2 separate regions of the Homo sapiens genome follow, and region 1 is linked to region 2. Evidence: fine-mapped expression QTL. Tissue or cell type: blood mononuclear cells. Region 2 holds a variant in brackets; the other region holds the start of a gene. All regions are shown on one strand. Distances are between the middles of the regions.

Region 1 (6,076 bases), 31 kb after region 2:
TGTGGTGGTTCACACCTATAATCCTAGCACTTTGGGAGGCTGAGGCAGGAGGATCTCTTGACCTCAGGAGTTCAAGACCAGCCTGGACAACATAGTGAGACCTCTCCTTTATAAAAAATAAACAAAATCTGCTGGCTGTTGTGGCACGCATCTGTAGTCCCAGCTACTTGGGAGGCTGTGATGGGAGGATCATTTGAGCCCAGGAAGTTGAGGCTACAGTGAGCTATGATCACACCACTGCACTCCAGCCTGGGTGACAGAGTGAGACTTTATCAAAAAAACAAGAAACTTCTAATCCCAAAGCAAAGAAAGAAAACAACTAAAAATGCTGGGTTAAATGAGTTAAATCTTTGTTTTGTTTTGTTTTGTTTTTTGAGATGGAGTTTCGCTCATGTTGCCCAGTCTGGAGTGTAATGGCACGATCTTGGCTCACTGCAACCTCCACCTCCCAGGTTCAAGTGATTGTCTTGCCTCAGACTCCCAAGTAGCTGAGATTACAGGCGTGCACCACCACGCCCGGCTAATTTTTGTATTTTCAGTAGAGACAAGGCTTCGCCACGTTGGCCAGGCTGGTCTCAAACTCCTGACCTCAGGTGATCCACCCGCTTCGGCCTCCCAAAGTGCTGGGATTACAGGTGTGAGCCACCGCGCCCAGCCGAGTTAATTTTTTATTAATGTAGCAACAAGGTGATCAGAAAATAAGGACCAACCAGAGGCCAAAATGTCATTGTAGCCCCAGGAGGGGGACAGCTTAGGTGTCAGACAAGCAGGTTTGAGTCTGATAAGACCTCAAAGCATGCCCATTCAACATAAAGGTGAATTGGAAATCAAAATAAGATCTTTCCTTAACATACACACACCAGGAGCTAAAAGGAAATTTGGTATCTCAGACCTTGCTGTTAGGAGGAAGGGGTGAAATCTCGATCGATGACTCATAACCTCACATGAGTTTGCAACTCCAACTGCACCATCTGGCTGTCTGAAAGTCAAGTAGACAATATGGTTCAAAGCAGTTCACGCTGGGCGCGGTAATCCCAGCACTTTGGGAGGCTGAAATTGGGTGATCGCTGGAGGCCAGGAGTTCGAGACTAGCCTGGGCAACGTGGCAGAACCACGTCTCTACAAAAAATAAAAAAATTAGCCAGGTGTGGTGGTGTGCACCTGTCATCCCAGCCACTTGGGAGGCTGAGGTAGGAGGATCGCTTAAAGCCAGGAGTTCCAGACCAGACTGGGCAATATAGCGAGACCTCATCTCTATAAAAAACATTCTATTAACTATCCAGGAGCGGAGGCAGGCGTTTGTAGTCCCAGCTAGTCAGGAGGCTGAGGTGGGAGGATTGCTTGAGCCCAGGAGATGGAGGCTGGTCCACCCTGGGCAACAGAGAAGACACCCTGTCTCAAAAAAAAGGGAGCCAGGCATGGTGGCTCATGCCTGTAATCCCAGCACTTTAGGAGGCCAAGGCAGGCGGACTACGTGATGTCAGGAGTTTGAGACCAGCCTGGTTAATACGGTGAAACCCCATCTCTACTAAAATTACAAAAATTAGCTGGGCATGGTGGCACGTGCCTGTAGTCCCAGCTACTTGGGAGGCTGACGCAGGAGAATCACTTGAACCTGGGAGGCAGAGGTTGCAGTGAGCCAAGATCGCACCACTGCACTCCAGCCTGGGCGACGGAGTGAGACTCTGCCTCAAACAAACAAACAAATGAGCAATAGACAAAAGGTAAGTGCAGCTAGGCGACAAAAGGGAAGTAAGCGGAGGCTGGGACATGGTCAGGGACCTCGTGCGCAATGCTCAGGAGTATGGCCTCAATTCTAATTCTATTTTTTTTTTTTTTTTTGAGACGGAGTCTCACTCTGTCGCCCAAGCTGGACTGCAGTGGCATGATCTCCGCTCACTGCAAGCTCCGCCTCCGGGGTTCACACCATTCTCCTGCCTCAGCCTCCCGAGTAGCTGGGACTACAGGCGTCCACCACCACGCCTGGCTAATTTTTTTGTATTTTTATTAGAAACGGGGTTTCACCGTGTTAGCCAGGATGGTTTTGATCTCCTGACCTCGTGATCTGCCTGCCTCGGCCTCCCAAAGTGCTGGGATTACAGGCGTGAGCCACCGCTCCCGGCCAGTATGGCGTCAATTCTAAGGGCAACAAGGAGCTATGGGAGGGTGCTGAGCAGGAAAATTCAGCAAAGGTTCCCAGAGGGAGAGCCTGCCCTGGCTAAAAGGGGTCCAGTATGTTCTGGGCAGCTTGAGCTTGACACTGCAAGTCTTTCTGAAGACCAGGTGAACATATGGATGGGGGGAGTGGCAGGTGGGCAGGGAACAGATGGTAGGACCTTGAGTGCCCAGCTAGGGGCTGAGTCTTCCTTCTGCCAAGGATGGGCTGGCCATGGAAGGTGTCTGAGCAGAGGGCACAGTCAGATTTCCACATCAGAACAACCAAGGAGCCGGGGGCAGGGGGCCATGGCATGCAGAAGGGGTGAGTTTTAGAAAGTTCAGAACCAGTCAACTTACGGTGGGATCTTTCCCATCTCCACACCCTCTGTGCCCTCCTTACAATGGGTTCAGTCCCTCTTGCTACTCCATCTTACAAGGAGCTGTGAAGGTGTTGAGCCCTGCCCCGCTAGCCGGCGCTCACCTGCTCCCACGTGGTGCTGTTCCTGAGGTCTGCTCTGATAGAAGCCCCCAGCAATGCCTGTTTCATCCCAGAAGGACCCCCAACGGCTCGTTTGAGCAAGTCCCTCAGAGACACCGCAAAAACCCTCCAAGGATCCTTGCACAGGACACCAGAATCTGCCCCCCTAGCATGAATCCAGTGTCCCAGTCTCCAGAAGAGACCCCCCAAACAAGTCCTGGAATACACAGCAGCCTCCCGACACACTCCGAACAACTCCCAAACCCAAAGTCCCACACAGACCCCAAAATCTCAAACAGTGCCCCAGCTGTAAACGATCCCGAGGAAACTCACACCTTCAGAAACCCGGGAAGTCCTTTATAGAGCAGCTCGCTCATCCCTCAGAGAAAGCCCTAGATAGACCCAAAGTGTCTTGGCAACCCCCCAGAGACTATCTATTGGGTCGTCCCTGTGAGCCCCGGTGACCTACTGGAGAGCCCCCTGAAGTCTCTCACAGTTATCACGGCTCCAAAAAGACCCCCACACCGCCACGGATTTCCAGTCAGCCCCAGCTCCCTGGAATTTCCACCAGTTGCCCAAAGACCCCCAAATTGCCCCCCAAATCCCCTGAGATCATCTCCTAAGCAGCCTGCAACGCCCGAAGCACCTTAGAGGCTACTCATCTTCCTCGAGAAATCCTTAAAGTGTCCCCTGTAGCCCCCTCAGAGACCCCCAACTGGTCACCCTCTCAGGCCCCGCCCCCGCCCAGCCCTCGGCCCAGCCCCGCCCCCAACCTACAAAGCACCCTCAGCTCTCCGGACCCTCCAAGCCGTCCCCGCAACCCAGCCCTGCACCGTGCGCCCCCAGAGCCCTCAGCCCCGCCCCCAGCCCTGGACGGATCCCGGCAACACTCACAAGAGGTCTCGCCTCGCGGTCTTGCAGACGATGCGCAGGAAGCGCCAGCCGCCGCTGCCCACGTACACGCCGAGCGCCGCTGCCGCGCTCCAGGTCCACGGCAGCCCCAGCAGCCACAACAGCGCCAGCGAGACCACCGAGGCCGCGCCCGCACCCGGAGCCCGCATCCTGGGGAAGCAGAGAGAGCTGAGGCCGCGGGCCGCTCCAGCCCCGCCCCACGACCCGCTCCGCCCCACGACCGCCCCCGCCTCTACAGCGAGCCGCGCCCCCAGGCCTCGGCTCTGCGCCCCCCGCGAGTCCGGGAACGCGCTCCGAGTCAGACTCCGCCCCCAGGCCTGGGATTGGTCAACTCCTCAGGCCAGGCATCGCCCCTTTCCAGGCTTTTACACCCGCCCGCTAACTAGGAACCAGACCAGGGCCCCAGGCCTGGGATTGGCCAGGTCCTGGCCAGGCTCCGCCCCCGGACCCTGGGTCCGCTCTATTCCATATTTTTGAGCCCATCCTTCCCTGCCAATCTTACAACAGTCCCCGCCCCCAGAGCCAGCATGTCCACCTTGTCGGTCACTGTCAGGCCTCGCCACATGCCTTCATCTAGCCTCTATCCTCGATCCCCGAATTACCCTTCACGTCCTGTCCCCTTTCCTCCTGGTCCTGCCTCTACCCCGTGGCCTTTTCACCACTCACTGGGCCCCGCCCTTAGGTTATGCTTCTAGCCCAGCCCACAGGTACAAGCCCTCTCCCCGAGTCCCGCCCCTCTCAGCCAGGCCCCACCCCCTAGGTTAGACATATGCCTCCCCACCCCCCCGCAATAAGCACACGCCCCACCCTCCCGAAACTAGAGCCCTCCCCAATCCGTTCAAGCCCCACCCCAGTTCCGGGCCTAGCCCAAGTTCCCAGGCTCAGGTTCTATCCTGGCCACGGGCCCCGCCCTCAGGCTTTGGCTCGGTCGCCACCTCCTGGGTTTCACTCCGGCCCCCCTAGGACCTAGGCCCCGCCCCTCTTCCCTCCTGTCTACTTCGAAGCCCCTCAGCCCGCAGAGCCGAGGCCGGCCGTCTTCCAGAAGCCACGACCATAGAGAGGCAACCGGACCGGAGAGGCGACGGCCAAAGAGACATGGGTGCTAGAACGGCCCGCCAGGGTCGTCCGCTGTCTCCATGACAACCAAGCCTTGCCCCACCCCCTCTCCTTTTAGGAAACACACGTGTCCTGCAGCCTTGGGGCGTGGCTCGCAAGATATCAGGACCCGAGCCCTAGTTGGCGTGCAGGATCTCTACCCCGGGGGACCAAAAATATCCCAGTCCACACCCACGGCCCGCGCGGGCTGTATTCTTGCTCCAGCTTGTCCTAAATCCAAGCCCCAAAGCCTCTTTCGGTCTTAAAAACACGTTCCAGGGCCCGGGGGAGTGCTCAACTCACACCATTGGGGCCTCAGAAGTCTCTAACTGTAAACACCGCCGCGGTCTTAACACGTGTGATTCAAGGACACAGCTAATTCTTAATCCATGTCCCGAAGCCTTGTCGGTTAAGTCTCACCGTCACACCCCAGGATCCCAGGGAGGACAAAATCCACACGCCAGGTCCCCATCCTTCCTAGAAGCACCTACAGGCCCTTTACTTGCACCCCGGGGTCCTAGATGCTCCCCCAGGCGCTGCCAGCGCTGGCCTGGGGGCACGCACAACCCCATTCTCTGGCTGACCTGAAGCTGCAAGCCGTGCCTTCAGTCTCCCAGAAGCTCAGGCAGGAGGCAGGCAGGGACTAGGAGGCTGAGGCCGGGGACCTTTCTGTTTCTGCAGACTCCTGGACCCTTCTTGGGTGCGCTGTGCCTACTGTGCGGGCTTCTGCTTTGGGGTCCTTCCCTTCCAGCTCCCCCTCCTCTGCCCCACTGCCGACTCCACCACTGCTTGTTTTCTGCTCTCCTTGGCCGACCTTTCCAGCGTTCTCCTTAGGAGGCGGCCCGGGCCTGATTCCAATGCATTTGGAGGACAGGGCTGGGCAGGCACTCACCCCCTACGCTGCCATTGGTCCCTGCGGGCAGCAGGGTGGCTGGAATGAGGGATCACGAGGAAGATCCGGAGGACAGGCCCAGAGCCAGCCACTGGCCTGCTGCTTTCTGGGCCTGGAAGAGTCAGCAATGACCAGTAACTGCAGTTGCACTCTTACCTAGCCAGGTAGCACCGCTGTGATCACCCCATTTGACAGGTAAAGAAACTGAGGGCAGGCTGGGCGTGGTGACTCACGCCTGTAATCCCAGCATTTTGGGAGGCCGAGTTGGGTGGATCACTTGAGGCCAGAAGTTCGAAACCAGCCTGACCAACATGACGAAACCCCGTCTCTACTAAAAATACAAAAATTAGTCAGGCATGGTGGAGCACACCTGTAATCCCAGCTACTCCGGAGGCTGAGGGAGCAGAATCACTTGAACCCGGAAGGCAGAGGATCCAGTGAGCCGAGATCGCGTCACTATACTCCAGCCTGGGTGACAAAGCAAGACCCTGTCTTAAAAAAAAAAAAATAGAAGAGAGAAAGAAAGAAAGAAAAGAAAGAAA
Region 2 (6,076 bases):
GCTCACGCCTATAATCCCAGCACTCTGGGAGGCCGAGGCCAGCGGATCACCTGAGGTCAGGAGTTCAAGACCAACCTGACCAACATGGTGAAACCCCGTCTCTACTAAAAATATAAAAATTAGCTGGACGTGGTGGCGGGTGCCTGTAATCCCAGCTACTCAGGAGGCTGAGGTGGGAGGATCACTTGAACCCCAGGAGGCAGAGGTTGCAGTGAGCCGAGATCCCACCACTGCACTCTAGCCCGGGCAGCAGAGTGAGACTCTATCTTAAAAAAAAAAGAAAGAAAGAAAGAAAAGAAAAAGAGGGAAGAGTTAAGGCCAGACAGGGACAGGGATGGAAGGAGACAGAGGCTGAAAAGCAGGGAGAGGAGGCAGACACAGGGGCACCAAGGCAGCAGAGAGGCACGGGTTCCTCTGAGGTTCCAGTTTCTCAGTCCAGGATGGGCCGTGCCAGGTACAGCTCGGCCAGGTGGGTGTGTACTAGGCGGCCACCCCTGGGCAGCGCTGTCTGGCTCAAGCTGGCCTCTCCCACCAGGCCCAGAGTTTGTGGCCAGTAGAGGAACAGCTTCAGAGGGCGAAGGCGCCCGAGCAGATGCGAGTGTAGACTGCCTCATTTAAGGGCAGGTAGTGGCCCTGCTTCAGGTCCAGGAAGAAGAGCCGGTCTGAGGTCTGGCGTGGGTCAAAGCCCTCTCGCTGCAGCCTCGTCTTCTGGATCTTGAAGGTGCCTATAGTGGGGATGGGGGGCAGATAAGGGCTGAGCAGGTGGCTTCTGGGAGGCCTCAACTCAATATCCTCTCCTGCACCTCTGGACCTTCCCACAGGCTGTCCCCTGGGCAGGAATGTTCTTCCCCATTTTGCCTGCCTGATTCCCCCTTGTCTGTCAGATCCTGGCTTCATGCCCCCTCCTCCAGTGAGGCCTCCCTAACCACTCCTCACCAGGGCAAGAAAATGTACACCCTGCCTGGTCATGTGTCCATTCCCCACATGACAGGCAGGGCTGTGTCTGTTACACAGTGAATAAGAGTTTAGCAACTTACATCCTGTGGGCCAAATTTGGCCCTCCACCTGTTTTTGTAAATAAAGTTTTACTGGGGCCGGGCACAATAATGGCTCATGCCTATAATCTCAGTACTTTGGGACGCCAAGGCAGGAGGGTCGCTTGAGCCCAGGAGTTTAAGACCAGCCTGGGCAACATAGTGAGACTCTGTCTCTGCAAAAACCCTTTTTTTTTTTTTTTTTTTTTTTTTTGAGACATAGTCTTGCTTTGTCACCCAGGCTGGAGTGCAGTGGTGTGATCTCGGCTCACTGCAACCTCCACCTCCTGGATTCAAGTGATTCTCCTGCCTCAGCCTCCCAAGTAGCTGGGATTATAGGCGTGCACCACCACACGTGGCTAATTTTTAAAATTTTGGTAGAGACAGGGTTTCACTATGTTGGCCAGGCTGGTCTCGAACTCCTGACCTCAAGTGATCTGCCCGCCTCGGCCTCTCAAAATGCTGGGATTACAGGCGTGAGCCACCGCACCCGGCCAACAATTTTTTTTTTTTTTTAAATTAGCTGGGTGTCATGGCACGTGCGTGTAGTTCCGGCTACTTGGGAGGCTGAGGTGGGAGAATCACTTGAGCCCAGGAGGAGAAGACTGCAGTAAACTATGATTGCATTATTGCATTCCAGCCTGGACAACAGCAAGATCTTGTCTCAAAAAATAAATAAAAATTTAGAAATAAAGTTTTATTGGCACACAGCCATGCTCATTCATTTGCACATTGTCTATGGCTGCTTTTGCACAAGAATAGCAGTGTTGAATAGCAATCGAGGCTGTATGGCCTGCAAAGCCGAAAATATTAACTATCTGGTCCTTTAAGAAAAAGTTTGCCTGAGCCCAGGACTGCGAGACCAGCCTGGGCAACACAGTGAGACCCTGATATATTTTGGCTGTGTCCCCACCCAAATCTCATCTTGAATTGTAGCTCCCATACTTCCCACGTGTTGTGGGAGGGACCCGGTGGGAGGTAGTTGAATCATGGGGGTGGGTCTTTCCCGTGCTGTTCTCATGATAGTGAAGGGGTCTCACGAGATTTGATGGCTTTATTTGGTGGTTTTTAAAGGGGAGTTCCCTTGCACACACTCTCTTGCCCTCCACCATTAAAAAGTCCCTTTGCTTTTCCTTCGTCTTCTGCCATGATGGTGAGGCCATCCCAGCCATGTGGAACTGTGAGTTCCATTAAACCTCTTTCCTTTATAAATTACCCAGTCTCGGATATGTCTTTATTAGCAGCATGAGAATGGACTAATACAGACCCCATCTCTACAAAAAATCAAAAAAATTAGTCAGGCATGGTGGTGCCTGCCTGTAGTCCTAGCTACTCCAGAGGCTGAGGTGGGAGGATCATTTGAACCCAGGAGGCTGAGGCTGCAGTGAGCTATGATAGTGCCACTGCATGCCAGCCTGGGCAACAGAGTAAGACCCTGTCTCAAACAAACAAACAAACAAAAAAAACAAAAGAAAAAGAAAAGATACACCGAGGCCGGGTGCAGTGGCTCATGTGTGTAATCCCAACACTTTGGGAGGCCAAGGCAGGTGGATCACTTGAGGTCAGGAGTTCAAGACCAGCCTGGCCAATATGGTAAAACTCGATCTCTACTAAAAATACAAAAAAATTAGCTGGGCATGGTGGTGCACACCTGTAATCCCAGCTATTCAGGAGGCTGAGGCAGGAGAATCGCTTGAACCCAGGAGGTAGAGGTTGCAGTGAGCCAAGATCACGCCACTGCACTCCAGCCTGGGTGACAGAGCAAGACTCCATCTCAAAAAAAAAAAAAAAAAAAAAAAAACAAAAAAAACACTATTTCAGAATGCTTAGTGGCAGTGGAAGTGAGGAATGGAAATAAATAACTACTAAAATAAAACAGCAGAAGGGACCCGTGAGAGCCCACAGTGCTAGCTGGCTGTGAGCCCTTGTGTCAGTCCCAGGACACTGTCCTGAACTAGGATGAGTAAATGGTTTGGATATGGTTTGTTTGTCCGCACCAAAAATCATGTTGAAATTATTATTATTATTTTGAGACATTGTCTCACTCTGTCACCCAGGCTGGAGTGCAGTGGCCTGATCTCGGCTCACTGCAACCTCTGCCTCCCAGGTTCAAGCAATTCTTCTGCCTCAGCCTCCTGAGTAGCTGGGACTACAAGTGCATGCCACCATGCCTGGCTAATTTTTTTTTGTATTTTTAGTAGAGACACAGTTTCACCATGTTGGCCAGGCTGGTCTCGAACTCCTGACCTCAGGTGATCCACCTGCCTCAGCCTCCCAAAGTGC[G/T]GAGATTACAGGCGGGAGCCACCACACCCGGCCAGGTATTCTTTTTTTTTTTTTTTTTTTGAGACAGAGTATCACTCTATCGCCCAGGCTGGAGTGCAGTGGCGTGATCTGGGCTCACTGCAAACTCCGCCTCCCAGGTTCATGCCATTCTCCTGCCTCAGCCTCCCAAGTAGCTGGGACTACAGGCACCCGCAACCGTGCCCGGCTAATTTTTTGTATTTTTAGTAGAGACAGGGTTTCACTGTGTTAGCCGGGATGCTCTCGATCTCCTCACCTCGTGATCCGCCCGCCTCGGCCTCCCAAAGTGCTGGGATTACAGGCGTGAGCCACCGTGCCTGGCCCCGGCCAGGTATTCTTTTAGAGCAACACAAAATGGACCAAGACATGAATCAACAGACACACTGATGGATGAAGAGAGAGATTGGAGTGGGGGAGACTCGCACCTGTGGTGTCCACCTGGGGCAGGAGGCGCAGGAAGATGGGCCGGGCATAGGGTGCCAGCACCTTCTGCAGCTCCTGGTATATCGCGTTGGGGTCCAGCAGGCTGTGGGGGTCTGCGACGGCCGCCATCCCTGCCTTACCCTCCACTCCTGGAGGCAGAGGCTCAGCTGAGGACACCCCGCCTCTCATCCTCCCCACCAGCAGGACCAGATACACTGTCAAGCAGTAGCCCCTGGTCTGTAATCTCCAGTCTCTCCCAACCTGGGATGACATTTATGGAAGCAGCCACACATTTTGTGGAGCTCCTGCTTGGCTCATTGAAGCCCTAAGACAGGTGGGCTTTCATGATCCCATTTTCTGGATGACAAAACTGAGGCTCAACATCACCCAGGTGAACTGGCTCCAGATCCAGTGCTTCCTCCTGGGCTGCCATGAGCAGTTGTCCAGGTTGTGCACTGCCCAAAGGCATGTGTACTTCTAAGCCCCTTTTGGCTGAGCTCCCTCAGGACCATGCCTCAGGACCACCCCCTGCAACCCCAGCTTGCCTGGAACAGCCACCCCATAGACGGCCACGTCTGTCTGGCCCAGCAGGCGGCTCAGCACGCCCTCCACCTCGGTGGTGGAGACGTTCTCCCCTCGCCAGCGGAAGGTGTCCCCGCTACGGTCCCGGAAGTACATGTAGCCCAGCTCATCCATCACTAGCACGTCACCTGGCAGAGGGGAGAGGGGCAGATGGGTGGAGGATCCCCATCCGCACAGCCAGTCACCGGGGCCTAGCAGGCTGCGCACCTGAGAGGTAGGCGCTGTCGCCCTTGCTGAAGACGCTGTGGGCGATCTTCTTGCTGGTGGCGCTCTCGCTGACATAGCCATCGAAGCGGCGCAGCGGGTCCTGTTGGTTGATCTGACCCACAAGGAGGCCAGGCTCCCCTAGGGAGAAGGCCATGTTCAGGCTGCGCTAGGCAGGCAGGGCGTGGGGACCCCTGCTCCGGGTGGGGACCATGCGGGGGCCCTGCTCACCGGCCTGGCAGGGGATGCAGAGGCCCTGGGCATCCCGCAGCAGCTCCATTGTGTCCTCATTGACCTTCACCAGCCGGATGGGGTACACGTGGGGCAGGATGCGGCTGTTGAAACCACAGGAGCCGACCTGGAATGGGGTGAACTGAGTTGGAAGGAGCCGGGGATATGCGGGGTCCTTCTCAGTAACACTTTGCCTGCCTTGCCCTGGGGCTTGGACCTAGCACCTCCAGTGTCATTCTAAGCTCTGTGACCTTGGCTGATCTGCAAAAGCAGGGTAGTAAGCGTCGCCTCCAACTCAGGGCCCCTCCTCCCACCTTCCCAGCCTGCATTCAGTCAAGAGAAGACCTCTGGCTGGCACCCACTTCCTGATCCACAAAACCCTCCATGCTGGCAGGAAGTAGATGCCTCTGTGTGGACACTACAGCTACGTCAGACACTGCAGAGCTTCACCTGCTGCCCGCCGCCCTGCTTGGCATGGTTCTATGAACAGAAATGCTTCTCCAACATGTTTGAGCCACTACACCCTGTCTGGTGTGTTTCTTTCTGCTTTTCCCCCTTCCTCCGTTCCTCCCTTCCTTCCTTCCTTCCTTTTTTTATAGAGTCTTACTCTGTCGCCTAGGCTGGAATGCAGTGGCGCAATCTTCGCTCACTGTAACCTCTGCCTCCCACGTTCAAGTGGTTCTTATGCCTCAGCCTCCTGAGTCTGGGATTACAGGCGCATGCCACTGAGCCCAAACAATTTTTTTTTTTTTTGTATTTTTAGTAGAGATGGGGTTTTGCCATGTTGGCCAGACTGGTCTCGAACTCGTGACCTCAAGTGATCCACCCACCTCAGCCTCCCAAAGTGCTGGGATTACAGGCGTGTGTGGGTGGCAAGCTACCCAGGTGCCGAGGCAAGAGACCGAGGGCACGAGCCATTCCAGTATAATAAAATATATAAAACAACAAGAGTTATACTAGATCTAGATCATAGACATGATTATATATGAATATCATTAGTCATCAGTTTGTAGCAATTACTCTTTATTCCAGTATTATAATAATCCTCGCTCTGTAATCATAACCTAGAAAAAACCGGGCCATAGAGAGATAGGAGCTGAGGGGACACAGTGAGTAGTGACCAGAAGACAAGAGTGCGAGCCTTCTGTTATGCCCGGACAGGGCCACCAGAGGGTTCCTTGGTCTAGCGGTGACGCCAGCGTCTGGGAAGTCTAGTCTAGCGGTAGCCTTAGTGTCAAGGAAAAACACCTGCTACTTAGTGGACCGGGAAAGGGAGTCTCCCTTTCCCCCGGGGAGTTTAG

What was found. PIP is the estimated chance that this variant, and not a neighbour inherited with it, causes the effect.
Region 1: SLC27A1 starts here. The variant in region 2 is fine-mapped to the expression of SLC27A1 in blood mononuclear cells (TOPMed, PIP above 0.99). The same link has a PIP of 0.9 or more in whole blood.

The regions. Positions count from the first base shown.
Region 1 is chr19:17,468,161-17,474,236 of GRCh38, reverse strand. SLC27A1 (solute carrier family 27 member 1) reads right to left here and starts at 3,713. Exons shown (of 12, transcript NM_198580.3): 1 at 3,530-3,713. The coding sequence starts at 3,696. RefSeq lists enhancers at 2,596-3,097, 4,519-4,648 and a silencer at 3,639-3,768.
Region 2 is chr19:17,499,104-17,505,179 of GRCh38, reverse strand. SLC27A1 (solute carrier family 27 member 1) reads right to left here. Exons shown (of 12, transcript NM_198580.3): 8 at 4,776-4,902; 9 at 4,548-4,685; 10 at 4,304-4,468; 11 at 3,761-3,907; 12 at 1-725. The coding sequence ends at 568. All of the region lies in intron 1 of PGLS-DT (PGLS divergent transcript), which reads left to right. Among named protein-coding and RNA genes, the nearest start is that of PGLS, 9.5 kb to the left of the region's middle. RefSeq lists enhancers at 3,952-4,820, 4,821-5,689, 6,042-6,076. The variant G/T (reference allele first, on the strand shown) is at 3,318.